Linked DNA regions of Homo sapiens. The protein of the gene in region 5 purifies or fractionates together with the protein of the main gene of each other region. This does not show direct contact. Each region holds a gene or a part of one and is shown on either strand. Other genes may lie near its edges.

The links.
Region 1: the proteins of DDAH1 (region 5) and SDHAF3 purify together in Homo sapiens (co-immunoprecipitation; one large-scale study listed by IntAct). This does not show direct contact.
Region 2: the proteins of DDAH1 (region 5) and GLOD4 fractionate together in Homo sapiens (co-fractionation; one large-scale study listed by BioGRID). This does not show direct contact.
Region 3: the proteins of DDAH1 (region 5) and LACTB2 fractionate together in Homo sapiens (co-fractionation; one large-scale study listed by BioGRID). This does not show direct contact.
Region 4: the proteins of DDAH1 (region 5) and EPB41L2 purify together in Homo sapiens (affinity purification with mass spectrometry; one large-scale study listed by BioGRID and IntAct). This does not show direct contact.
Region 6: the proteins of DDAH1 (region 5) and ARCN1 fractionate together in Homo sapiens (co-fractionation; one large-scale study listed by BioGRID). This does not show direct contact.
Region 7: the proteins of DDAH1 (region 5) and CLIC4 fractionate together in Homo sapiens (co-fractionation; one large-scale study listed by BioGRID). This does not show direct contact.

The regions. Positions count from the first base shown.
Region 1 is NC_000007.14:97,179,481-97,182,263, reverse strand, and holds the end of SDHAF3 (succinate dehydrogenase assembly factor 3, mitochondrial precursor), read right to left. Parts: intron 2,005-2,783; exon of another isoform or gene 1,915-2,004; intron 1,253-1,914; coding exon 1,049-1,252; 3' UTR 501-1,048; downstream 1-500. UniProt on the Homo sapiens protein: Plays an essential role in the assembly of succinate dehydrogenase (SDH), an enzyme complex (also referred to as respiratory complex II) that is a component of both the tricarboxylic acid (TCA) cycle and the mitochondrial electron transport chain, and which couples the oxidation of succinate to fumarate with the reduction of ubiquinone (coenzyme Q) to ubiquinol.
Region 2 is NC_000017.11:772,281-775,780, forward strand, and holds part of GLOD4 (glyoxalase domain-containing protein 4), read right to left. Parts: coding exon 3,495-3,500; intron 1-3,494.
Region 3 is NC_000008.11:70,666,386-70,670,617, forward strand, and holds the start of LACTB2 (endoribonuclease LACTB2), read right to left. Parts: upstream 2,801-4,232; 5' UTR 2,736-2,800; coding exon 2,614-2,735; intron 1-2,613.
Region 4 is NC_000006.12:131,053,246-131,056,745, forward strand, and holds part of EPB41L2 (band 4.1-like protein 2), read right to left. Parts: intron 1-3,500. UniProt on the Homo sapiens protein: Required for dynein-dynactin complex and NUMA1 recruitment at the mitotic cell cortex during anaphase.
Region 5 is NC_000001.11:85,350,160-85,353,659, forward strand, and holds part of DDAH1 (N(G),N(G)-dimethylarginine dimethylaminohydrolase 1), read right to left. Parts: intron 1,421-3,500; coding exon 1,347-1,420; intron 376-1,346; coding exon 256-375; intron 1-255. UniProt on the Homo sapiens protein: Hydrolyzes N(G),N(G)-dimethyl-L-arginine (ADMA) and N(G)-monomethyl-L-arginine (MMA) which act as inhibitors of NOS. Has therefore a role in the regulation of nitric oxide generation.
Region 6 is NC_000011.10:118,571,029-118,575,208, forward strand, and holds the start of ARCN1 (coatomer subunit delta), read left to right. Parts: upstream 1-1,380; 5' UTR 1,381-1,519; coding exon 1,520-1,522; intron 1,523-1,567; exon of another isoform or gene 1,568-4,180. UniProt on the Homo sapiens protein: Component of the coatomer, a cytosolic protein complex that binds to dilysine motifs and reversibly associates with Golgi non-clathrin-coated vesicles, which further mediate biosynthetic protein transport from the ER, via the Golgi up to the trans Golgi network.
Region 7 is NC_000001.11:24,811,447-24,814,946, forward strand, and holds part of CLIC4 (chloride intracellular channel protein 4), read left to right. Parts: intron 1-2,647; coding exon 2,648-2,773; intron 2,774-3,500. UniProt on the Homo sapiens protein: In the soluble state, catalyzes glutaredoxin-like thiol disulfide exchange reactions with reduced glutathione as electron donor. Can insert into membranes and form voltage-dependent multi-ion conductive channels.

The DNA.
Region 1 (2,783 bases), on a different chromosome or scaffold from region 5:
TCTTAGTCTCTTTGGGCTGCTATAACAAATTACCCTAAACTGGGTGGCTTATAAATAGAAATCTGTTTCTCACGTTTTGGAGACTGCAAAGTACAAGACCAGGGCACCAGCAGATTCAGTGTCTCATGAGGGGCCACTTTCTGCTTTAACATCTTCTCACTGTATCCTCATATGGTAGAAGGGGCAAGAGATCTCCCTGGAGCTTTTTTTTTATACGGGCACTAATCCCATTCATGAGGGCTCTACCACCTAATAGTATCACACTGGGAATCAGGTTTCAATAACTAAAGATACAAGTCATTTAGCATAATATTTTTTAAAATCCACATTTTATGTTGTAAATGGGGTTACCGTTTTTTAAATTTGAGATCTTAGGAAAGTTTCTTATACTTAAGTTGATTTGTAATGTCCTCAACTATTAGTTGATAAATGAGAGTCTCAATGTAGCTACACATTATTTCAGGGGTTGTTATTAACAAACAAACACTGGAGGAAACGTATTATACTTTGTATAGTTTATTATACAAATGATTGATAGTAAAATAGTGAATTTTAAAGCTTCTTCCTAACCTTTCATTGTGAATGAACAGTGATGCAGGGAGAAGAGACATTCAGAAGAAAAATCATGTATGTATTATTAAACTAGAAGTGATAAAATGTTCAGAATGACAATGTATTTAAAAAATAATAACCTTGTTGGAATTGTACATCTATCATTATCACAACATGCTTATTTGATGAAGCTAAAGAAAAGCCAGAAGACTAATATGGCTGGATGAGAATAGCATTTTAAAACATTTTCAGCAAAATTCTAGAAATTTGCTGTTTAGTTCCAAAACTGAATTTCATACAAGTGCTATTATTCCAATAGTTTTTTTCAATTGTCACTAGTGATCTTGATCCATATACTGCAATCATAATATCCAAAATAAAAGAGTATTTCATTAATAACAGGTGTTTTCAAAGCTTAAATATATTTCAAAAACCAATGACAGTTAAAGTAGGGGTTCTAAATTTTTGCATGTCTTATTAAGCTTTGTTGTATAGACTAAAATTTTGGTTTCATAGACTCAGAAATACTAAATTGCCTATTGGGTTTTGTGGCTTCTTGCATCAGCTCCTGCAACTGTCCAATTTGTTCATCACGAAAGTCATTAAGTTTTTCTTCTGGGAGGAAGGTGCCAAAACATGCTTTTCCAGTTGAATTTTGTCTGTTTTCGTTAGCCTGTTGCAATAACGCTGTTGCATACACCTAAAAAGATAAAGAATGAAGGTTATAGATGTAAAGTTTAAATAATATTTAACATTAGAGGACTTGAATTCTAATTCTGAGTCACCTATTTTTCCTCATCAGTAAATGCAGAAGCATTTGGTTAAGGAGATATAAATATAGTTGTGAAGATACAATTCATTGATCATTTCATGTATATCTATTTTTAGCACTTTAAGTGTTTTAACCAACTTTTAGCAAAATTTTTAACCTGGATATAAGTAAAGAGTGGTGAGTCCCTGGATGGGCTTCAGAAGCATGCATAAACCACCTCAAACCATATGCAAAATTGTATTTACACAAGTACGGACATCATTTCTGGGGCCATAGCTTTCAACGGATTCTCAAACAGGAACCATGGGTCTTTTTTCCCCCAACTTTTATTTTAAACCTGCACATATATCCCCTAGATACAAGGGGTACATGTGCAGGTTTGTTAGATGGGAATAACTGCATGATGCTCAAGTTTGGGTACAGGTCCTGTCACCCAGGGAGTAAGCACAATACCCAACATGTAGCTTTTCAACCCATACCACCCTCCAGTAGTCCATGCTGTCAGCTGTTCCCAGTTTACATCCATGTGTGCTCAATGTTTAGCTCCCACTTAAAATTTTATTTTTCTGTTCCTGTGTTAATTTGCCTAGGATCATGGCATCTATGTTGCTGCAAAGGACATGCTTTCATCCTATTTATGGCAGCACAGTATTCCACGGTGACATGTAACACATCTTCAAGTGAGTCTAAATTCATTCCTATGTCTTCAATTACAATTTTAATTTAAAATATACTAGAGAAAAACTTCTTAAACCTTTAAGTCTTCAATGTTTAACAACCATCTGTGTCAAGAAAAACTTTTTCATGTTCTAATTTTGCTCTTATTAAGTACATTCAGCCTAATATTCCAACTATCCCCATCTGCACAAGTGCCACTGTTTTGAAACAGACTCACTCTAAAATTAATCTTTTAAGCAGACAAAGTGCCAAAGTATTTTAGTTCATGAAGTTAAAGTGAATGAACTGGCTAACTCTGGATAATGCTGCTACCTGATCTGGCTTGAGATATATAAATTGCTTGTAATTGCTGGAATGGCAGCATTGCCAGAGCAACTTTAATTCCAAACATTCCAAACCTATGGAGAAAATATTTTTTCCATGATTTACAGAAATCCACTTATTAAGATGAAAACATTTCAAGTTTTATCAATTCCACTTCTATATGCTTCAGGGCAGGCAGGGTTTTTCAACCTTGGCACTATTTTGTGTGTGTAGGGGGGGTAGGGGTGGGGAGGGGTCAGTGAGAGTCTGCATTGCAGGATGTTTAGCAGCATCTCTTGTCTCTGACCACCAGATGGCAGTAACACCCCTCTCCCCGTCTTGATAATCTAAAATGTCTCGAAACACTGCCAAAGGTTTCCTGGCAAGGCAAAAATCACCCTACCATCCTAAAGAAACTTTAAAACATGTGAACAAGTATCATGCAGAAGAATGTTGATTGTTAAAGCAAAAAAAAAAA
Region 2 (3,500 bases), on a different chromosome or scaffold from region 5:
AAACTTACATCTTCGAAATAAATGACAAAATACATTCCTGATGGGTTAAAAAAATAAGTTTAGAGAATGAAACCATGAAAATACTAGATACAGATGATTATTTATACAATTTTGGAGTAGAGGAAGATTTTTCTTTAAACCTGACACCAAAGATAGAAAAACTATGAAGAAAAAACTTCTGCTACATAAATTACACAAAATGGAAAACTCCTAGACAACAACCAAGAAAAGGAATTACAATCAAAACTAGAGTATACAACACAGTAGGGGGAACAACTGCAATATATTGGACAAAAAGTCCTTAATATGTAAATCACCTGTAAATATCAATAGGAAAAGAATGAACATGCTAGAAAAATAGGCAAAAGGCACAAAGCAATAATCCACAAAACAAGGAATTAGAATGGTCAAATAACATACGAAAAAATATTCAGGCCGGGCGCGGTGGCTCACGCCTGTAATCCCAGCACTTTGGGAGGCTGAGGTGGCAGGATCATGAGGTCAGGAGATAGAGACCATCCTGGCTAACACGGTGAAACCCCGTCTCTACTAAAAATACAAAAAATTAGCCGGGCGTGCTGGCGGGCGCCTGTGGTCCCAGCTACTCAGGAGGCTGAGGCAGGAGAATGGCGTGAACCCGGGAGGCGGAGCTTGCAGTGAGCCCAGAGCGCGCCACTGCACTCTAGCCTGGGCGACAGAGCGAGACTCTGTCTCAAAAAAAAAAAAAAAATTTCAACCCGACGCCCCCAAACAACAAAGAAATTAGAATTCACATAAAATCCTTTGTTAACTAATGTGCAAATAATGTTAAAAGTTGGCAGTGTTAACTGTGTTAGTGTAGAGGGGAAAATCACAATCATGTAATACAAGTGTAAATCAGTACATTTCTGGGCAATAGTTTGATGGAATGTACCAAAAGCTTTAAAAAGTGCTCATTGCTTTTGAAAGAACAAGTCCATTTTCAGCCACTCCAAAGGTAATTGTGGATGTATGAAGGGCTTTTACGACAAAGACATTCACCAGTGTTGCTTAGAACAATAAAACACTAGGAACGACATAAATATCCAACAATAGAGAATTGTTTCTCTTCCTACAATGTAATAATACGATGGAACTCCTAAAAAAGGATATACAGAAATGTATACACTTAATTATATATACGTATTTTTGACAAAAGATTGGAAAGATATACTCTAAAATGTCAGCAGTGGTTCTCTCTGGGTACATGGGTGTGTGTGTTTTTTTTCAGCTTCTCTGCTTGTCTAAGGAAAAAACTTGATTATTTTGTAAAAAGAATAAAAGTCATATTGAAACACCTACTGTTACTGGAAACTTTTCACATTGTAAAGTGACTTTCTAAAGAGCTGTTCCACGTCTCCATCTGACTACGATAAATTCAGTACATTTTTCTTTGGCTTTACTGCCTTAGTCCTGTTTGCTAGAACAGCAATATTGGGATTAAGACGCTGTTTCTCACAAGTGCCTCCGCCTGGCAGGCTCCATTTTTTTCTTTCCATTTACTTCAAAATCAACAAATCCCAGTTGACTTGGAGCCTGAAGGGACGCAGGACAGGAAGTTAACGCGTGGGTGAAGCTGCACAGAAGTGGGTAATTCAAAGGAAAGATGAATGCCAGCCGGACAGAAGGTCTGACCACATTGTCAACCAGAAATGCCCAAGGGGATTTCCATTCCAAAGAACAAAAGCTTCTTAGCACCATGGGGCTCTCTATTATTTTAAGCACTGAAATATCACTAAGGCTGGAGAGAAAAAATGGATGGTGGAGCTAGCTGCAAGCGTTAAGTTTTAAAGTCAGCAAAGGATCAATCACCTATCAACAAAAAAACACCATCAACACCCTTTAAATCACCAGTGAGGCAGAGAAACACCATCTCTCCACGAGTCCCACACAGCCAAGTCTAGCCTCCCACACTGGAACAGACGGATCTTTCTTTTGCTGAGCACCGGATGATAAACAAGGAGCACTGAACATTCTACAGACTCAGCATGGGGGCATCGGGGACAGGAGGCCGACCAGTGAAGAAGGAGAATTTCCAGGACTCCCTTCTCAGGCCCACTTGCAGGCATACGTTCACCAAGTAAGGGAGTCGGCACAAGTGCCCTTGCCATTCGCCAGCATTTTCCCCGTTTTTGCTTTTGTTTTGTCAGAGCAGGTAGCTGAATTTGCAGGCATTAAATACAAAATGAAACACTGATGAGGCTGCCTCTGCAGTCAACAAAACAAACCCTGCAAAGTTTCCTTCTTGTTCTGTGTGGCAGTCAGCGTGGGGGCTCCTCACTTCCATGCCATCCCTGAGTACCCACGCTCAAGTCTGGGAAACTGACCTCGGCTCCAGAGGAGGCATGGCTAAATGGTTTGGGGGTGATCCTATTTCTCTTGCCAGTGATTGGTTTAGGAGCAGGCACAGTATATCAAATCTGAACAGGAAGTTTGCTGGAAGATTCTAGGAAAGTTTTTCTTCTGCTCCTAAAAAGAAAGCAAAAAGGGCCGGGCACGGTGGTTCACGCCTGTCACCCCAGCACTTTGGGAGGCTGAGGCAGGCGGATCAAGTGAGGTCAGAAGTTCAAGACCAGCCTGGACAATATAGTGAAACCCTGTCTCTACTAAAAATACAAAAATGAGCTGGGCGTGGTGGCATGTGCCTGTAATCTCAGCTACTGGAGAGGCTGAGGCAGGAGAATCACTTGAACCTGGGAGGCGGAGGTTGCAAGTGAGCCGAGATTGCAGCACTGCACTCTAGCCTGGGCGACAGAGCAAGACTCCGTCTCAAAAAACAAATAATTTTTAAAAGTTAATAAAAATACTAAAAAAAAAAAAAAAAAAGCTGAGCGTGGTGGCAGGCGCCTATAATCCCAGCTACTTGGGAGGCTGAGGAAGGAGAATTGCTTGAACCCGGGAGGCAGAGGTTGCAGTGAGCAGAGATCATGCCAGTACACTCCAGCCGGACTGACAGAGTCTCAAAAAAAAAAAGCAAAAAGAAGTCAGCATCTCCTCTCCTACCAGATGGGATTGTGGGAGCATGTGGCCCCACCTGCTCCTGGCAGCTCTCCTGCAACCTTGAGGGGACTAGTTCTAGGAGAGGTACCCGCAGAGAACAACAGAACGTAGAAAGAGAAAATGTGGGGAGCTGGTGAATCATCTAACCTTGAAATCTTTCCCACCTATAGAATGCCTGCTCTGTGAGCTAAAAGATTCTATAACTGTTCAAAGTAGTTGGGTTTTCTGTTATTTACAGATGAAAGAATCATAAATCACTACATTACCAGTAGAACAGAACTAGTCTAGATCCCCTACTGCTATGTATTTAAGTTCTGATATGAGAATGTAGTCTCTCCGATAACAGGTAAAAGCACTGGCTGGGGAAGACACGTCACGTGAACACAGACTCTACAAAAAAAAGACAGGCAGCCCTCACTCTCCTTTCACCAAAGATGCCTTTAGACAGAGGCTTTTACTGGTTCTGGTATAATTACCTGACT
Region 3 (4,232 bases), on a different chromosome or scaffold from region 5:
AAAGGATGAATGAGATTAGCTGGGTAAAGAAGGGAGGAATGAGTGGAAGAAAGAGGAAAGCATGCGTGAAGGCCCTGAGACAGGGAATCACAAACCTCATCTGAGACACTAGAAGGCCAGCATGGCTGGAGTGGGAGAGGTTTGAGAGGAGCCTGATAAGACTGATGGAGGCCAGAATACACAAGGCCTTCCAGTTTTAATTCCTAAAATACCACTCAGGCTACAAAGGGAAGATTGGATTGAAGAGAGACAGAGGTAGTCGTACAGAAGCCAATTAGGAGGCTATTACAGTAGCCTAAGCAAGAGTTGTGCTGGCTTGGACTGAGTGACAGCAGGGGACATGAACAGATCTTCATAATGGCTTGGATATGCAGTAGGAAGCAAATAAATGTCAGGAAGGGTATTTAGGCATTTCCTTTGATGGCTTTGTTTATCAAGATATGAACAACTGAAGGAGGACCTGGCAGTTTTCTGGAAAGGTTATGAGTTCAGTATGGAAAACACTGAGTTCCAGGCAGCAGTGAGTCATGCAAATAGATTTAAAAGTTGGCTACTTGAGTCTGAAGATCAAGTTTGGAATTTGAACTTGAGCTATATATTTGGTAGTTAATAATAAACAGATAATAAAGGCAAAGCCAAATAAGTAGATGAGATCACCTAGGTAGAGAATACAGTAGAAGAACATGAGAGATGAGGATTATATACTGAATAACTAAAATAATTAAAGATTTGATAAAGAAGATGACTCTATCAAGGTGAAAGAGAAAGAGCAGCTCAAGAGGTAATAGGAAACCTGAAGAATGTGGTGTTGGCAAATTAAGGAGGGAGTCGTCAATGGTGTCAAAGCACTGAAGTTCAAGGAAGATGAGAACAGAAAAATACCATTGGGGTTAGTGATACAAAAGCCGCTTGTGATCTTAGAACTGTTTTGTGAAGCGGAACAGGTGGATACCAATCTCAGAACATCTGACAAGGGGCCAATTAATATTAACTTCTAGCCACCTTTTACTTTACACCTTTTACTTTATACAGTAGCATTATCTACACTTATTTCTAGCTCAACTATACGGACTCTCTAGTTCAACTATATGGAGAAATAATTTACATAGTGCAAGTAATTCCACTGGCCATTCCACTCCATTAATTTATGTGAGCAACAGTGTTAAGTAATTTAAGACGAGAGACTATAAATCTGCTTTTCCCTCAGTTAGTCTTTAAGTCTCTCTTAGCACTAGCACTTTGCTATGTTGAGTGTGATTATAGTGTTTAAAGATACAGTATGTATTTTTCATACAATATAGCCCCTCAACACAAGCCAATTTCTTCACCTGGTTTTCAAACAGAATCAGCCATCTGTTTCAACGCTGGAAAAAAGGCAGGTTGTGCTGAACTTACTGAGACAATACACTGATCTCCAACATGGTGTTCTTCTAAGAGACTTTCCAGGGTAATTCTGATAATATGCATCTTTTGTCTGAGGTATTGACTAGTTCAAGATGACACACTGTAGAGAGACCGCCTATGGATTTACTTGGTTGAGGGACTTCCAGCCAAGACAGACTGTACCCTAGAGATCTGGCATTTTTCCTGCTTAATTCTCTATCCTCCTAGATTCTGGTGGCAGCCTAAACCTTTGGTAACTACCTGACCCTGCCTTATTTACTCTGAACTTAATCTTTTACCTGCCCACTTTGCAGGTCTGCTGCTTCTAAAATTCTTATTTACTGGAAAAACGCCAAACAGTAGACACTTCCAAGGAAAACTCAATTAACTGTACTTACTAAATCGTTTTTAGTAATCAATTATATTTTAAAAATAATTTATGTCTTGACTGCACAATTAAATTCTATGCTCAAGAGAAACTACATTATCTGGGTTCATCCAGTAAAGACTACAAAAGTTGCTAAATGCCTAAGACTTACTATGCAGTAAACCAAATCTCCCATTCCTGCATAATTCCACTAAAACAGAATGCAGCTAAACAAGAGCAAAAGTATCTTCTTAGAAATACAGGTGTGTTACTGTGTCTGCAAATTAAACTCAAACAAGGTCACACACAATTGTAACAAAAAACTTCCCCAAATTACTTATGTCAGCTCCTCTTATGAGCCCACAGGCTGCAGAGAACCAATTTGGAAGCCAGGAGAATCCTGCCCTCTGCTGCTGAGTTGAGGAAATCGCCTCAACATAATTAATCGCTTTTGAGAAGGGAAGTTACACTCTGGGCAAAACACCAGTGAAAGTCAAGTGAGCAAAGTAAACGCTTTCTTGGACTCTTGACATCCGAATTTTCTCAACAGTTTAAACACGCACACCCTGGCATTCAAACATCAAGAACAGTAAATCGGGTTTCAAAACAGAAGTTTTTTTTTTTTTTTTTTTTTTTTTTTCCATTTCTCCCTAAATTAGAGAGCTATCACCTGGGGTGGTCGTATTTTAGCTAGCTTCGAGATCCGAGTGTCTGCGTGCAGTCCCGACGGGGCTGCTAGGCGCGGGGCTGCCCAGCTAGGGACAGGACGCGGCGCTCTCCACTGCCCGCGCAGCCGCGATCAGTCAAAGCCCGGGCTCCGGGGCCGGCTGCGAACGTTGGGGAGGTTGGAGAGGGACGTTTACCTGGGGCCGGTCCCCACTAGGTAGGTGTTGGTGCCTTGGAGGGTCATGGGACCCGGGTTACAGCCCAACACACGCACGACTCGATTGGACAGCCGCTCGACGCGCTGCAGTACAGCAGCCATTCCCGCCTCAGCCGCCCGCCGGCGTGTCGCCTATCTGGATACTCCAGCGCGGAAGAAGCCAACAGGCCGGGGATAGCGAGTAGCGTCCACGTGATGCCTCGCAACCCGGGAGGGAGGGGATTGGCCAGCGGCTGGTCCAGGTGTCATGTGACACCGCGGACGAGCCGGGGCGGGGATCCGGCAGCTAGGCCGGGGGGTGGGGGGGGCGGTGCGGAACTAGAGGTCACGTGACGCCGCGCGGGCTGCGCGGGCAGTGGTGGGAAGGCTGGCGCGAGGCGTGAGGTGGCGTGAGGCGAAGCTGGAATCTGCCTCTGTCACGGGGGCTGGTGCCTCACGGGTTTGTGTCCTAGACAGGCGAGTGGATCCAAGTGGGCGAGAGACATTTTAATCTGGAAGAGTCTTGTGATTTGGGAGACAGGTTTGGTAACCGTTCGTTATTCAGTAATAAATGTCAGGAAGGATTGCCAGATTTTTAGGCAGTGGCTCTGTGTGTGTGTGTGTGTGTGTGTGTGTGTGTGTAGTAGTAGTAGTAGTAGCCTGTTCATTTTTTTTTTTTTTTTTTTTGAGACGAAGTCTCGGTCTGTCGCCCAGGCTGGAGTGCAGTGGCGCGATCTCGGCTCACTGCAAGCCCCGCCTCCCGGGTTCACGCCATCCTCCTGCCTCGGCCTCCCGAGTAGCTGGGACTATAGGCGTCCGCCACCACGCCCGGCTAATTTTTTGTATTTTTAGTAGAGACCGGGTTTCATTGTGTTAGCCAGGAAGGTCTTGATCTCCTGACCTCGTGATCCGCCCGCCTCGGCCTCCCAAAGTGCTGGGATTACAGGCGTGAGCTACCACGCCGGGCCAGCCTGTTCATCTTTTATAATAAATAGTGGTAAGACATATTTACTTAGTACTTCCTACTATGCCTAAGTGCTTTCAACAAACATCCGACTTAACGCCCTTAATCCTCAGAACATTATTAAGAGGTGGACACTATTTTTGTTACAAATGAAAAACGGGGATTGGGCAGCTGCCCAGATGACAGAGTCTGCGTGTGCGGCCTTGCTCCTACCTGCCTCGCACTAACACTTGTCCCCCTCAGTGAGATTCAAGGAGCATGCCTCTGCCTGCCAGTGTTACCTGCCTGCCCAGAGAGCTAGGCTGGTCTTGTGGAGCCGTTTTGTGCCCAAGATGGAAGGGACTCATTTTCTCTGTAACAAGTCGGTTTCTTATCAGCCAAGTATTAACTATCCAGTGTTAACTACAGCTTCCCATAAAAAAAGTTGAGTTATAAATTACTTAAAAGAAAATACACAGATCCTGTAGACAGTTCCATCGAGTTATGACAATTGTATGTAATCACTGCCCCAAAGAGATGTAGAACATATCCACTGTAGCAGCCCACTCTTTTTTTTTTTAAAAAAAGGTGAGAAATTGACACATACAGTGCTTGGTGGCTTTTTTTTTTCCAGATATTTCTGATGAAGAAAACGATCTGCTCTTACCTATTTTATG
Region 4 (3,500 bases), on a different chromosome or scaffold from region 5:
AAAAAATCAAGAAACAAGAAAATCATGTTATTTAGAGACAAAACACCAGAAAATAAAACCAAAACTAGTGAAAGTAGTTGTGGCAGACTGTCACGGTTACTACTTGAGACCATCACTACAACAGTTACTACTGTTACTACTTGAGACCCTCATTAGGAGACGGGACGAAGGGACGAACATGGAAATGATAAAAAAAAAAAAAAAAAAAAAAAAAGAAACTGTTTTAAAGGAAAGGCCAGGGGAAGAAAAGCTCCCTGCTTCTAGTCAGCAAAGGCAGCCCCCCTGAGCTCCACAGCCCTTCGTATTTATTGGGTAACAAGAACAGGGAGGAGGAGGTAGCAACTGGTCAGCTGCTTAACTGATCGCAGGTTCATATTGTTACTAACAGGCTTCAGATGTACCTAATCACAAGAAACACTGCACTTGGGGCGTGACTGCCTTCAGCATTCCTTCTGGGTGGCATACACAGTTTGTCAGTTTGCCAACATTCTACATTTATGAGAAACATTTTGTTGCTTACTCATATAGCCTCCAGTGGTATACTGAGTTGATCATAACCCTCATTCTTTCGACCTCCAACGTTTCTCCCTTTTTGTTTTTTAATTAATTGAGAAAGGCAACTACAGGCTGTGCAGCCCTTAATTGCCAGTTGGTGGTCCAGCTGATCTTACAACGGGAGGCACAGGAAACCATGGCCAGCATGGCCACAAACATGGAGTCAGGGGTCTTTGCCTGACCCTGACACTAACAGTGTCTCAGCTTCCTGTGTGGTTTTCTTGATCTATCCCCATGTCATGAGGGTTGATGTCAGTGTGACTCCGGTCGGTCCTCATTCCATCTTCGCATTCAGATTCAACTGGCTCATGGCTCGTATTAGGGGAACAAGGCCTGTAGCTAGAATCCATGGATCTCTCCAGTCTTCCATTCCATGGTCGCACACACCTTGAGGGCACCCACACAGTTTGTTCATCTCCTTATGTTGTCAAGCAGACTTGTAACGGGGTTTCTCATTTGTCTGGTTGGTTTTAGTTTTTTCTGTTCCAGCAGAACTTCCTCATTCAAGTCCCTATAGGACCCTGTCTCTATCTGTCCCTGTCTGTCCCTGCAAGTTTCTGCTAGCTTCTGCTGGTCTCTGCTAGTCTTTGCTAGTCTCTGCTAGTATTTGCTAGTCTTTATCTATCCCTGTCTGTCCCTGTCTGTCTCTACGGTCCCTGTTAGTTCCTCCAAGTTGGTGCAAGTCCCTATCTTTCCCTATCTGTCTCTATCTCTATTTATCCCTACTTATCTCTATGTGTCCCTGTAGGCCTCCTCAGGTCCCTTCAGGTCTCTTCAGGTCTCTGTTTGTCACTGATAGTCCCTGTTCGGGCGCCACTTGTGGCACATTGCCACAGTTACTACTTGAGACCTTCACTACAACAGTTACTACTGTTACTACTTGAGACCGTCATTACGAGACTGAAGGAAGGGACAAACATGGAAATAACAAAAAAACAAAAGGAACTGTTTTAAAGGAAGGGCCAGGGGAAGAAGAAAAGAGCTCCCTGCTTCTAGTGAGCAAAGGCAGCCCCTGAGCTTCCACAGCCCTTCATATTTATTGGGTAACAAGAGCAGGGAGAAGGAGGTAAGGATTGGTCAGCTGCTTAATTGATCACAGGTTCATATTGTTACTAACAGGCTTCAGATGTACCTAATCACAAGAAACACTGTGCTTTGGGCATGACTGCCTTCAGCATTCCTTCTGGGTGGCATACGCAGTCTGTCAGTTTGCCAACATTCTGCATTTATGAAAAACAGTTTGCTGCTTACTCATATAACCTCCAGTGGTATACTGAGTTGATCATGACCCTCATTCTTTTGGCCTCCAACAAGTAGTTGCCTCAGGGGAGCAGAAATCTGTCAAGAAGGGAGCTAGGGCACTGGTCTGCTGCTTTTTTTCATAATCCCTGCAGTACTACCTGACTTTCTAAATCATATAAAGCACCCTGGAGAATGCCATTTGCACTTTAAATGAAAGCAAAAAGTGCAAAACCACAGGAAAGGCAGAAACTAAAGGTCGGGGGAGAGCCACATTTTATTCTGATGTGTTTTATCCTCTGGTATATTTTTCTAATATTGAAAAATCAGGCTAGAAACATTACTTTAAATGTCTCTAGTCTGAAAAACAAGATGAAGGGTACTCCCTGTTCCAGCATGATTCAAGAATCACACAACTAAAAGTAGTACTCAGGTCTGCTTCATAATCATACCTTTACACAAAAAACTACATGGGCGAACCCAGTCAGGAAAGCAATCCTGTCTTTTATAAAAGTTAGATACTGCAGATGCCAACAAATTGCAAAAAACTTCAACTTCTACTGAGTAATAACATCGAACAATTAAAAGCAATAACTGGAACTCACAGAAAAAACAAGGGTTTTAGCCATACACAAGCTGGGTGCCCTTGAGCCATTTATTCAATTTTTAAGCCTCAGTTTCTCATCCGTAAAATAAGCACACCAGCTACTCCAAGATGGTGCTGCAAAAAAGAAGCAGGGTTATTAACATATGTAAAGTACCAATTATAGCACCTGGTGTGTAGTCTGTGCTGCAAAACCATTAGCTTCCTTATTTTTTTTTTACATGGTTATTGATTATCAAAGCTTCAGGCCTTACAGGATTACTTACAATGGAACCTAGAACAAAGCTAGAACTGAGCATAAAATGCGTGCGTCAGGGACAGGTTAAGCAAAGCAGCTGATGCGTGACAGCACCAGAAGCAATAGACACAATAGACCCAGTGGACCCAGTGGACCAAGTGCTACACCATCATCTAATTTTTCTAGCCTAAAATAAGGATATTTATATGAAACCTGATTTCTTAATGTTGGCAACTAACAAGTTAAAACACGATGTTGCTGGAAAATATGTGTGCAGGTATATTTCACACAAAGATTTATAAAGGTTACATTTTAATGCCATATGCAGAGGTTTAAACATTGTCAACAAAAATTCTACTCACTAATAGGCTTTTTTCAACAAGTTTACTGTGGTTATAGAGAGAAGAAGTTAGAACATATGCACACAATTTTACATTTATAATCAGTTACCTCTGGCAACATAACAAAAAAGACTACATTATCCCTGTGCTGTTGAAACTAGATCCCAACTGTTTTCCCATATATATGCTCTTTTGTAAATTAACAAAAAGAATGAAGTTAAGACAAGAGTTTCTAAAAGCTCAAACATTATAGATACTGGACTGAAATTGTTAAAAAGTGGTTTTAACTTGTGATCACCATAGGAAATTACTGTTTCATTTCAAAGACTGTACTTCCACACAGATAATTATTCCTGACCACTGCAAAAAATCTGCTTACCACATATTCACCAGTAACCAACCCACTAGGTCTCTTCTTAACCTAACAATTTTTACAGATGCCAGGCACTCTATGAAGCATTTTATAAGCATTAGTTCATTTAATCCTCATGTAACTCTGAGGTAGGTATGATTTTTAACCCCT
Region 5 (3,500 bases):
TTGAATCATGGCCTTTTTTTTAGGAAATCTGGTGTGTAACTAAAAACAGTTCACCAGTGAAGAGTTCTTCCTACACTTAGGTGTTCCTGGCTTCTAATGAATGTGAGGTCACAACAGTGCACATCACAGAAGCTCAAATACCTGCCTGTTCTCTCCCTGCCAACCCTGCTTGTTACTCCCCCAGCAGAGAGAATGTGAAAAACCCTGTGGCAGGCACCCCCACTACATTTAGAAGGAGCACAGTTTTGTATTTACCTTAAGGGCCTTCTGTGCAGATTCACTAGACCCAATTGCGATCAGGTTAGGCCCAGCCATGCTGCAGAAACTCTTCAAATGCAACCCATCTGCCACTGGCACTGTGGAGACTGCATAGTCCTACGTGGACAATAGAAAAACAAGCAGTTTAGTATTGCAGAATAATTCTAAAACTGATTAAAAACCTCCCTGAAATACACCTACTTCTTGAAGGCTGACAGGGACCTTGAATATTTGGAAGAAAAACTGGGACCCACAGATTTGGATATTGCTAGTTAAACGAAGACTGCTTCTAAGAAGACAGTAGAGTCACCAGATGTGTGACTGCTGCAACATCTTTGCTGGCTGTTTGATCTATGGAGTGGGCTACTCTGGGAGGGTGTATTTGAATATCCTGTGTAAACAGTGGCTCAGCTGGAGACTCACATCCTCATGGGGAACGGAGCATCTTGAGAGTTATATCCCTTCCTATGCAGTGTAGAGAGCCAATCTATTAATAATCAATAGAGTAAAGGGACCTTAAGAGGATGTACGTGCAACACCTAGCACAGTTTACAGCACACAGAAGGCACTCAAGCACAGGTGACCCCTGATTCCAATCTAAAAAAAATCTGTATTTCATAACAGAGTCAATTGGGTTTCCAAGTTTTTTTTTTTTTTTTTTAGAAACAGGGTCTCACCATGTTGCCCAGGCTCATTTGGAACTCCTGGGCTCATGCAATCCTCCTGCCTTGGCCTCCCAAAGTGCTGGGATTATAGGTGTGAGCCATCACGCCCGGCCTTCCAGATTTTTTTTTAAGTTGTTGATTGTTCCAGGAACATCTGCCAGGTGGTTGTATAATTATACACTGGGAGAAGACAGAAGATGCCCATGCTAACTTAGTTGTTCTTGTGGTAGCCCAGTGAAGCTGAATTATTGAGGAATTTGAATTTTATAGCTTCTAAAACTTCTAGTAAATGTACAAACATTACGAATTATTGTACAAAGCCAGTGAAGCGTAAACACCATTACTCATGACATTGATTCAATGGTTCTATGATTATTTATTAAGTAATTGCTTTGTGCCAGGCATAAACTACCTTTTACCTACCTTAAAAGTATCAGCCAAGATTTCAGCACCTCGTTGATTTGTCCTTTTGGAAAGGCCCACAAAAAATTCTCTGCCTGTAATAGATGTCATGGAACATAGTGAGCAGGTGGCACCAGTGACTGTACATCATTTCTTTTATCTATAAATAATGACCTTAAAGCATCACACAGTTCTCTCTTACCACAGAGAACAGCTTCACTAAAGAGACTACAAAAAATGATTTCAAACTACTGCCCTTAAGAATAAACTTTTTCAAATTCAAAAGGGCAGAAAGCAGGATGGTGGTTTCCAGGAGCCATGGGGAAGGGTAAATGGGGAGTTATTGTTTAATGGATAGGAAGTTTCAGTTTGGGAAGATGAAAAAGTTCTGGAGATGCCTGGTGGTGATGGTTGCCTAACACTGTGAATGTTCATGCCTCTGAACTGTACACTTAAAAATGGTTAAAATGGTAAATTTTATGTTATGTATATTTTACTACAATAGGAATGAAATTTTTATTTAGGCAATAATAAACACATTGATAATCTCTGATCAGAAATTAAGTAATAGCAATGACAATTTAACAGTAAAACAGTTCCTCAAATAACATCATTTTGCTCAACTTTGATGAGGAAAAAGAAAAAATTGATTCTGAGCTGGGGCCATGGTCTGTAGGGAGTTTGTACATTCTCTCTAGGCCTGCGTGGGTTTCCTCCCACATCCCAGAGCTGTGCACAGCAGGTGAATTTTCATGTTTACAGGGTCCCAGTCTGAGCAAGTGTGGGTGTGTGTGGGTGAGTGTGCTGTGATGGGACGGTGTCCTGTCCAGGGTGGGTTGCCGCCTTGCACCCCGAGCTTCCAGGATAGCCTCCAGCCACCCTTGATGACCCTGAACTGGAAGAAGTGCCTTAGAAAATGAATGGATACAAATGATTGTAATAAAGCATCCAATAATCATACAAATGTACAACAATAAATGATGTCGTAGGAAAGTGCTCAATGAGCCCACCATATTTGTGATTGTTTTGAGCTGTATGGTGGGAGGAGGGGCTCCTTACAGTTTTATCTTTGCAAATATTTATTCCCTGATTTAACCCACCACCACAACTGCTGTTACTCAGTAATTGGCCAAAAATTGGGCAATTATCTTGTTTTTATTAATTTAAAAAAATGTGCATATGGCTGACATTTATTTCAATGCTTAATATTATAAGTGTTTTGGGTTTTGATTTAGAAGCTGGGTGATATTTTTGTGACTAGAAATATGCCAGAGGAACTTAACTCTTGTTTATATTAGCCTATGGTAAAAATGGTTTTGTTATATGTCACTTCGCTTAAAAGTCACAGTTTCCATGAACCTATCAACATTGTTAAGTGAGAATTTATTATACTACCTTTTTTTTTTTCACTAAAAGAACAGTACTAGACATTGTTGATAAATTCGGATTCTTTTCTTATAAAATGATCACGTGAGGCCTGAGGAAACAATCTGGGGAAAGTGAGTTAAGTGCTGACTGGTCTTCAGGTCTGACCTCTAAAAGCCGTGTCTTTGAAACTACACATTCCATATATTTGAAATCAAAACATCAAAAGATACCTATGTACAAAGTACAAAATTTCTGCAGGATGAAACTTCATTCTTATTTGACTTTTCTGAAATTCAGCAGTTTTTCTACTCAGAAGGCAAAACACTAGATAAAAATGGTCTCTTAGTTATAGGCAAATAATTATAGTATGGAGTTAGGCAATACATAAATGTGGGAACTCTCATCTTCCCTTTATTTATTGAAATTCCACATAATATGTGGAAAAGATATTCAAAGAGAAATTAGTATCTTTTTGCCTCAGAGTATTATGGTGAAGTATAAGAAGAGTAGCCATGCAGAAGTGCTTGATAGATTTTATAAATATTATAACTTTAATCTTCATAATGTCCTTATTAAACGGGCAAATGACATAGGTCAGGTGATGTTACGACAATATCCAAGGGCTTATGTTGTTGGCAGACACAGGAATCTTTTGTGGCACACTGACAGTTTTTTGGGTAATGGCATGATTGTGTTGTCCTTTAAGAAAACTCATTATATAAAGATCAAAATTTAACTCAAGGAGAGGTATTTTACTTGAAAAAAGTATTATGCACTTTATTAAATAGTCAGCTACAATGAAAAAAT
Region 6 (4,180 bases), on a different chromosome or scaffold from region 5:
CCATGCCTGGCTTAATTCCAGAATGTTTTAATTATTCCAGAAATAAATCTTACACTAATTAACTGTCACTCTCTATTCCTACCCTTCCTGAGCCCCTGGAAATCACTAAGCTAGTTTCTGTCTCTGTGGATTTTCTTCTATTCTGGATCTTTCGTATTAATGGAATCATATATGAGTGCCCCATTGTATCCGTCTTTTTTCACATAATATTCTCAAGGTTCATCCATATTGTAGCATGTCAGTACTTTATTCCTTTTTGTGACTAAATAATATTCCATTGCATATATATGCCACATCTATTGATGAATGGATTTGTTTGGATTGTCTCCACTTTTTGGCTACTATGAATAATGCTGCTATGAACATTAGAGTACACATTTTTGTGTTGACATATATTCAGTTCTCCTGGGTATGTACCTATGAGTGGAATTGCTCAGTCATGTGGTAATTTTGTTTAACTTTTTGAGGAACTGCCAAACTCTTTTCCAACGTGGCTGCACTATTTTACATTCATCCTCACCAACAATTATTATGATAGCCATCCTAGTGAGTGTGAAATGACGTCTCACCACGGGTCTGATTTCCATTTCCCTAAGGATATTCAACATTTCTTAATGTGCATATTAGCCATTTATATATCTTCTTTGGACACATATCTATTCAAATCTTTTGCTCATTTTAATTTTGTGTTTTCTACTCCCTCCATTTTGCAGATGAAGCCCATTTTTAGACAGGAATACTGTATTTGTCTTTTTATTGCTGAGTTATAAGAGTTCTTAGGCCAGGCGCGGTGGCTGACGCCTGTAATCCCAACATTGGGAGGCTGAGGCGGGCGGATCACTTGGGGTCAGAAGTTTGAGGCTAGCCTGGCCGACATGGTGAAACCCCGTCTCAACTAAAAATACAAAAAACAGCCGAGCGTGGTGTGGCGCGTGCCTGTAATCCCAGCTACTCCGGAGGCTGAGGCAGAAGAATCGCTTGAACCTGGGAAGTGGAGGTTGCAGTGAGCCGAGATCACGCCATTGCACTCCAGCCTGGGCGACAGAGTGAGACTCCATCTCAAAAAAAAAAAAAAAAAGTTCTTTATATATTCCGGATACTGGTCTTTTAGGCACACAGGTTATCCTGTATATTAAATAATAGTGGCTGTGCCAGCGGCTTGTTAAACTGTAAGATGTGACGCAAAATAAATGAAGGCGATGACAGTGAAAGGGGAGAGATACGAGGTTCCACAGCTGGAGGGTGAACGCCCCCTACACCTCCTGGGCTTAATCGTAACCGGAGCGGGGTACCCTCAATTTCCCCAGCCCACAGGCCCCGCCCCCCCCCCCGCCCTTTGACCTGCGCCGCTTCCGGTTGAAGACGTGGCTTGGGGCCGCCATCTTGGCAAGAGGCGAAGCGGCAGCGGTTCCTGTCAAGGGGGCAGCAGGTCCAGAGCTGCTGGTGCTCCCGTTCCCCAGACCCTACCCCTATCCCCAGTGGAGCCGGAGTGCGGGCGCGCCCCACCACCGCCCTCACCATGGTAAGATCCGAGCCAGGACCCGAACTCCTGGGGTCCGAGCCTCACCGTCTCTCCTTGTCGGCGGGCCTGGGGCAGGGGCCGGAGGAGCCCCGCCCTGAGGGTCTAGGGCAGAGTGCTTTTGCTCCGGGCTCGGGGAGCAGTGTGGCCTCCTGTGCCCGGTCTCCTGGAGATCCGATGGAGCTGACTCCAGTCCATCTGTCGTCGTGCCCGCTTCCGCACCACCCCCCAACCAGCTGGACTCCCTCGTTTGCTGGGACCTGCCCCTGAGACGGCCCGGCGTTTTTGCTCTGCGAGAACTTCGTGGTGGTGGTGCGGGTCCCAGGCTGCGGACCTCGGAACTGATGCTGTCCCGCCGGTTCCCTGGCGCTTAGGCTCAGCAGGCTGGGCCTGTCTCCGGAGGTTCTGGTCCTTCTGTTAATCAGAGCTTGTCTCCCACCCCCGGTGTTTGCTAGGCCGTTGATAACTCGAAATGCAAATCCACTGGTGTCCAGAAATTTTTCTTTTTGTTCAGAAGGGGGAAATGGAGACACAGAGCGGAAAGGAGTAACTTCTAACACTAATGTATAGGACCCAAGTGTCTCTGAAACCTTCCACTACTTCCGCAGAACTCACTTGTGTCCATTTGTTAGTGTGACTCGGGGTACATACACTGTGTAGACCACTGGGAAAATGTGAGCAGGTTCCAGAGAACACAGGGTTTGCCTTCAAGGAACTTATTGTCCAGGTGAAGAAAAATGTGTATGTGGCATGTCGTAGTCAGATGTCTCACAGGAGGTGGAGTAAGAGGGATGGGTTAGCCTCCGAGACCAGTTACTTGCCTTCCCATGCGTTATCTTTGTATACTCATCTGTTACAAGGATGAGAAAGGTTAATGTGGTTGAGGATGGAGGAAATCAGAACTGCTGACATCACTCAATCTTCCTTTATCGCTGTGATTTGTGGATATTCATGAAGTAGTAGACATTCTTTGGTTTCAAAAAAGCTAGTAATTTATTTTTCAGTGCACCTTATGTCCTTTAGTCTTTTGAAGGATGTTCTGTTCTGTTCTTTTTTATTCTTTTGTCAATAGATAACTTGATTTAAAACATCGTCCAGTGTACCTGAGAGATGGCAGAATGTAATTTGGTGGCAATCCTAATAAGTTCTATTGACAACCCTTTAGATAAGAACTTGGATAATGGGGGGAATTCATGCTTGGACTTTAGGCCACTGAACAGCTTTTCTCAGCCTCAGGTATATAAATTGCATCAAACAGGTTTGCCTCCTAAAATTTTTGTGTTGGACACAAAATTTCCAGAAACTTGTATTTTCAGTTTCTCCAGGAGGTTCTGTATTTGGTTAGTGATTTTGAAACTCAGTTCCCGTTTACACCCTGGAATTAATAATGCATTTTAGAGCATATTTTTATTTTAATAGTAAAGTTAAGGTCTTGTATTATATAAACCAGATAAAGGTAATCTTTCTAAAAATATTCTTTGTTAAAAGGTTCTTGGAACTTAGTATTTTTAATTCATTGATAACTGAGGGATGGTAAAGCCCTACGTGATATATATAAAATATAACTTTTGCATGCTATTTTGACATGTGTACGTATACATAGAGTTGTGTCACATATTTCTGAATTATTTGGGACTTAACATGATCCAGATACCCACAGATTTGTGTACTCTGGAGAACAATTTATCTCAGTACATTCTGCTCTGTAGAGTGTTAAGACATTGGTATGATTTCTGTGTAATGTTTTTGGGTCCTGCTCCTTTACAAACAGATCCCTGGACAGTAGAAATGTCCAGATAGGGTGAAATTTTTATCTAAAAGTTGTATCAAAATTTCCAGCGTTTATTTTAGCTCAACATTTCATTATGAAATTTTCCAACATCTGGAAAAGTTGAAAGAACTTTGTAGTGAATACCCATATAACCACCAACTAGATTCTATAACTAACATTTCACTATATTTTATCATGCATCTAATCATCCATCCATCCCTCTCTCCATTAAAAAAAAATATACATTTCAAAGTAAGTTGCAGATATCAGTACGTAAACATTGATTTTTTAAAAAATAAATTCCCTTTGGCTTTAGTTATTGAAGTGCAGAATGTCCTAGACTGCAAAGTTCCAATAGATAAATAAGTGAACAAATGCAGAAACAAATGCTTTCTCATGACTTCATCATAAAATAAAGTACAAAGAAAGGCATCTTTTGATTTTTTTTTTTTAAAGAGACAGGGTCTCACTATGTTGCCCAGGCTGGAGGGCAGTAGCTATTCACAGGCGCTATCATAGTGCACTGCGGCCTAGAACTCCTAGCCTCAAGCAATCCTCCCGCCTCCATATCCCAAGTAGCTGGGACTGTAGGCATGCGGGCCTTGATTTGATCTTTTTTTTGTATTCTGCAAATTAATGAGAACATGTTCTGACTTTTTTTCTTGTTTGTTTGGTTTTCGAGACGGATTCTCGCTCTGTCTCCAGGCTGGAGTGCAGTGGCACAATCTCAGCTCACTGCAACTTCTGCCTCCCGGGTTCAAGCTATCCTCCTGCCTCAGCCTCCTGAGTAGCTGGGACTGCAGGCGCCTGCCACCACGCCCAACTACTTTTTTGTATTTTTAGTAGATACGGGGTTTCACCATGTTAGCCAGGATAGTCTCGATCTCCTC
Region 7 (3,500 bases), about 61 Mb from region 5:
GCCCCAGAGGCTGCTTTGTTTTGGTTTGTTGTTGTTGTTGTTTTGAGACAGGGTCTCACTCTGTTGCCCAGGCTGAAGTGCAGTGATATGATCACTGTTCACTGCAGCCTCGACCGCCTGGGCTCAACCAATCCTCCCATCTCAGCCTCCCAAGTAGCTGGGACTACAGGCACATGCCACCACACCCAGCTAATTAAAAAAAATTTTTTTATAGAGATGGGATCTCACTATGTTGCCCAGGCTGGTCTCGCTTGAACTCCTGGACTCAAGCAATCCTCCTGCCTTGGCCTCTCAAAGTGCTAATGTTACAGGTATGAGCCACTGCACCCAGCCTGCCCCAGAGGCTTGATTAGATTCAGGGTCAACTTCTTTGGTAAGAATACTTCATGGTGCCATAGGAAACACACCATATCTGGTCATCTCATTTTTTGATCCTAAAATTCATTGGTGGGTTTGGGTGAGCCATTTTGCTTTTTTAACAAGATAGTACAAACACTTCTTGCTGTTAGTAGTTGTCAGCATAACAGTTTCACCATCTTTATCAGTGTTTTGTGGTGTTTTCAATTTTTCCTAATCAACAGGAGGAAGACATCTTATTGTTTACTTTTAAATTCCCTTTATAGTTGTGCTATTTTACATTTTTCTGTGTGTTCACTTGTTTTATCTGTCTCTCATCAATTTCTTTTGACCCATACCTATTTGATTTTTTTGATGACCTTTGGAATGAATTTGGACAAAATCCTTAGGTAATGTAGATTTTAAGCTTTTCTCACTCAGTACTTTGTCCATTCTTTGTTGCTTTTTACCCTTCATTATGCCATCTTTTATGTATTGAAGTAATTTTGATATTAGATAGTCTAATCTGGTGATCCTTTTCCTTGTCAAGCCTGGACTTCTAGAATAATGGGAAAGAAATAGCACCAGAATTTGGAATCTTTTGAAGTTGAAGATGACTGCAGGATTCAGCTGCTTTTCTCTTTTATTTTGCCAAAAAGAAAAAAAAAGGCCTAGGGAAGTCATGACTTACCCATCTTTACACAATTAGTTGGGGCCAGAGTTGAAACCAGACACTAACTCTCCAAAATCTTTTTTCCCTCCTCATTCTATCACTATCTCTAATGAGTGACTTAGTTAATTTGGAATGAGAATGATGGATTTTGTATTTTGGTTAAAAAAAAAATCAAAGCATTTTCTTACCATAAATTATGTATTTTGTGGAGGCTTGCTTCTTATTAGAATACTATTACAGCTATTATATCTAGTGGAAAAGTACTATTTCTTTCTTTTTTTTGAGACAGAGTATTGCTCTGTCACCAGGCTGGAGTGCAGTGGTGCGATCTTGGCTCACTGTAACCTCCGCCTCCCGGGTTCAAGTGGTTCTCCTTCCTCAGCCTCCCAAGTAGCTGGAACTACAGGTGCATGCCACCATGCCCAGCTAATTTTTATATTTTTAGCAGAGACGGAGTTTCACCATGTTGGCCAGGAGGGTCTCAATCTCTTGACCTCATGATCTGCCCACCTTGGCCTCCCAAAATGCTGGGATTAGAGGCGTGAGCCACCACACCTGGTTGAAAAATACCTTTCTTTCTTTCTTTCTTTCTTTTTTTTTTTTTTTAAGATGGAGTCTTGCTCTGTCGCCCAGGCTGGAGTGCTGTGGTGAGATCTCTGCTGACTGCAGCCTCTGCTTCCGGGATTCAAGCGATTCTCCTGCCTCAGCCTCCTGAGTAGCTGGGATTACAGGCACATGCCACCACGCCCAATTAACTTTTGTATTTTTAGTAGAGATGGGGTTTCACCATGTTGGTCAGGCTGGTCTCAAACTTCTGACCTCGTGATCCTCCTGCCTTGGCCTCCCAAAGTGCTGGGATTACAGCCGTGAGCCACCGTGCCCGGCTGAAAAATACCATTTCTTATTCAGTTTTATATACTTTAAATTTTAGAACCACTTTGATCTCTTTTCTTTTTCTTTTTCTCTTTTTCTTTTTCTTTTCTGACAGGGTTTTACTCTGTCACCTAGGCTGGAGTGCAGTGGTACATTCTCAGCTCACTGCAACCTCCGCCTCCCGGGTTCAAGTGATCCTCCTTCCTCAGCCTCCCAAGTAGCTGGAACTACAGGTGCGCACCACCATGCCCAGCTAATTTTTATATTTTTAGCAGAGATGGGGTTTCACCATGCTGGCCAAGCTGGTCTCAAACTCCTGACCTCAGGTGATCCACCCGCCTCGGCCTCCCAAAGGGCTGGGATTACAGACATGAGCCACCATGCCCGGACAATTTATTTATTTTCTTTTTGAGACAGGGTCTCTCTGTCGCCCAGGCTGGAGTGCAGTGGTGCGATCATGGCTCACTCCAGCCTCAACTTCCCAGGCTCAAGTGATCCTTCCACCTCAGCCTCCCTGGTAGCTGGTACTATAGACACGCACCACCATGCCTGGCTAATTTTTTATGTTTTGTGGAGACAGGATCTTACCATGTTGCCCAGGCTGGGTCTCAAACTCCTGGGCTAAGCAGTGTCCCACCTCAGCCTCCTGTAGTGCTACGACTACAGACGCAAGCCACCGTGCCTGGCCAACTTTGAGAATTTAAAGTATTATTGTTGTTTAAGAGTAAAAAATGATCTGATTTTGACCAATATTTTGCCCAACAGGAAGCCAGCAGACCTGCAGAACTTGGCTCCCGGGACCCACCCACCATTTATAACTTTCAACAGTGAAGTCAAAACGGATGTAAATAAGATTGAGGAATTTCTTGAAGAAGTCTTATGCCCTCCCAAGTGAGTATCAAGGAAAATACGTATGAAAATATTGTCACTTCTTTGAAGCTTGTGTTATTTGTCAGTAGAGATCTTTCTCGCAGCATTAATTTGGAATGACTAGGACTCTCTTCTATGTTTCTTATAATTAATGCTACACAGATATAAGAATTGGCTTCCAGCTAGGCCAATCAGCCATACTAAGAAAGGTGGGGATTTGTCTAAGCTGTAGAATATGTGGTAGAAACAGATTTGGGATGTGTCTGATAGGTCAGGAAAGACTGGTTATTTGTGGACTGTAGGTCTCAAACTGAGAGAGAAGTTTAAAGAGGAGAAGGGGTGGGGAAAGACACATTCCAACTGAACCCAGTAAGAATGTCTTAGCAGGAGTGTGGCACAGGACTGCAATGAGATTTGATTTCAGTTCATTTTAAAGGTAACTTTCTAAAGCTATAATCCAAGGACATTGACTTTTCCGACTGTGTCCCTAGGATTCAGAGTTTTTATTTACTTACTTCTTTGAGGTGTTCCAGATCTCTAGGTCCTGGATGTACTGTAATGATAGTTACCTAAATTGCAGATATGCAGCTTTGCATCATACTGTAATATTGGCATAGATTCAAAGCATTATTTGTTTCTTTTAGGCTTTTCCAGTTTCATTATCCTGAAAATTGACATGTTTTGTTTCTACTGACCAAAACCTTTCTTACTGGTTAACTTGACTGTTGCCCTCCATGTCCAGATATAT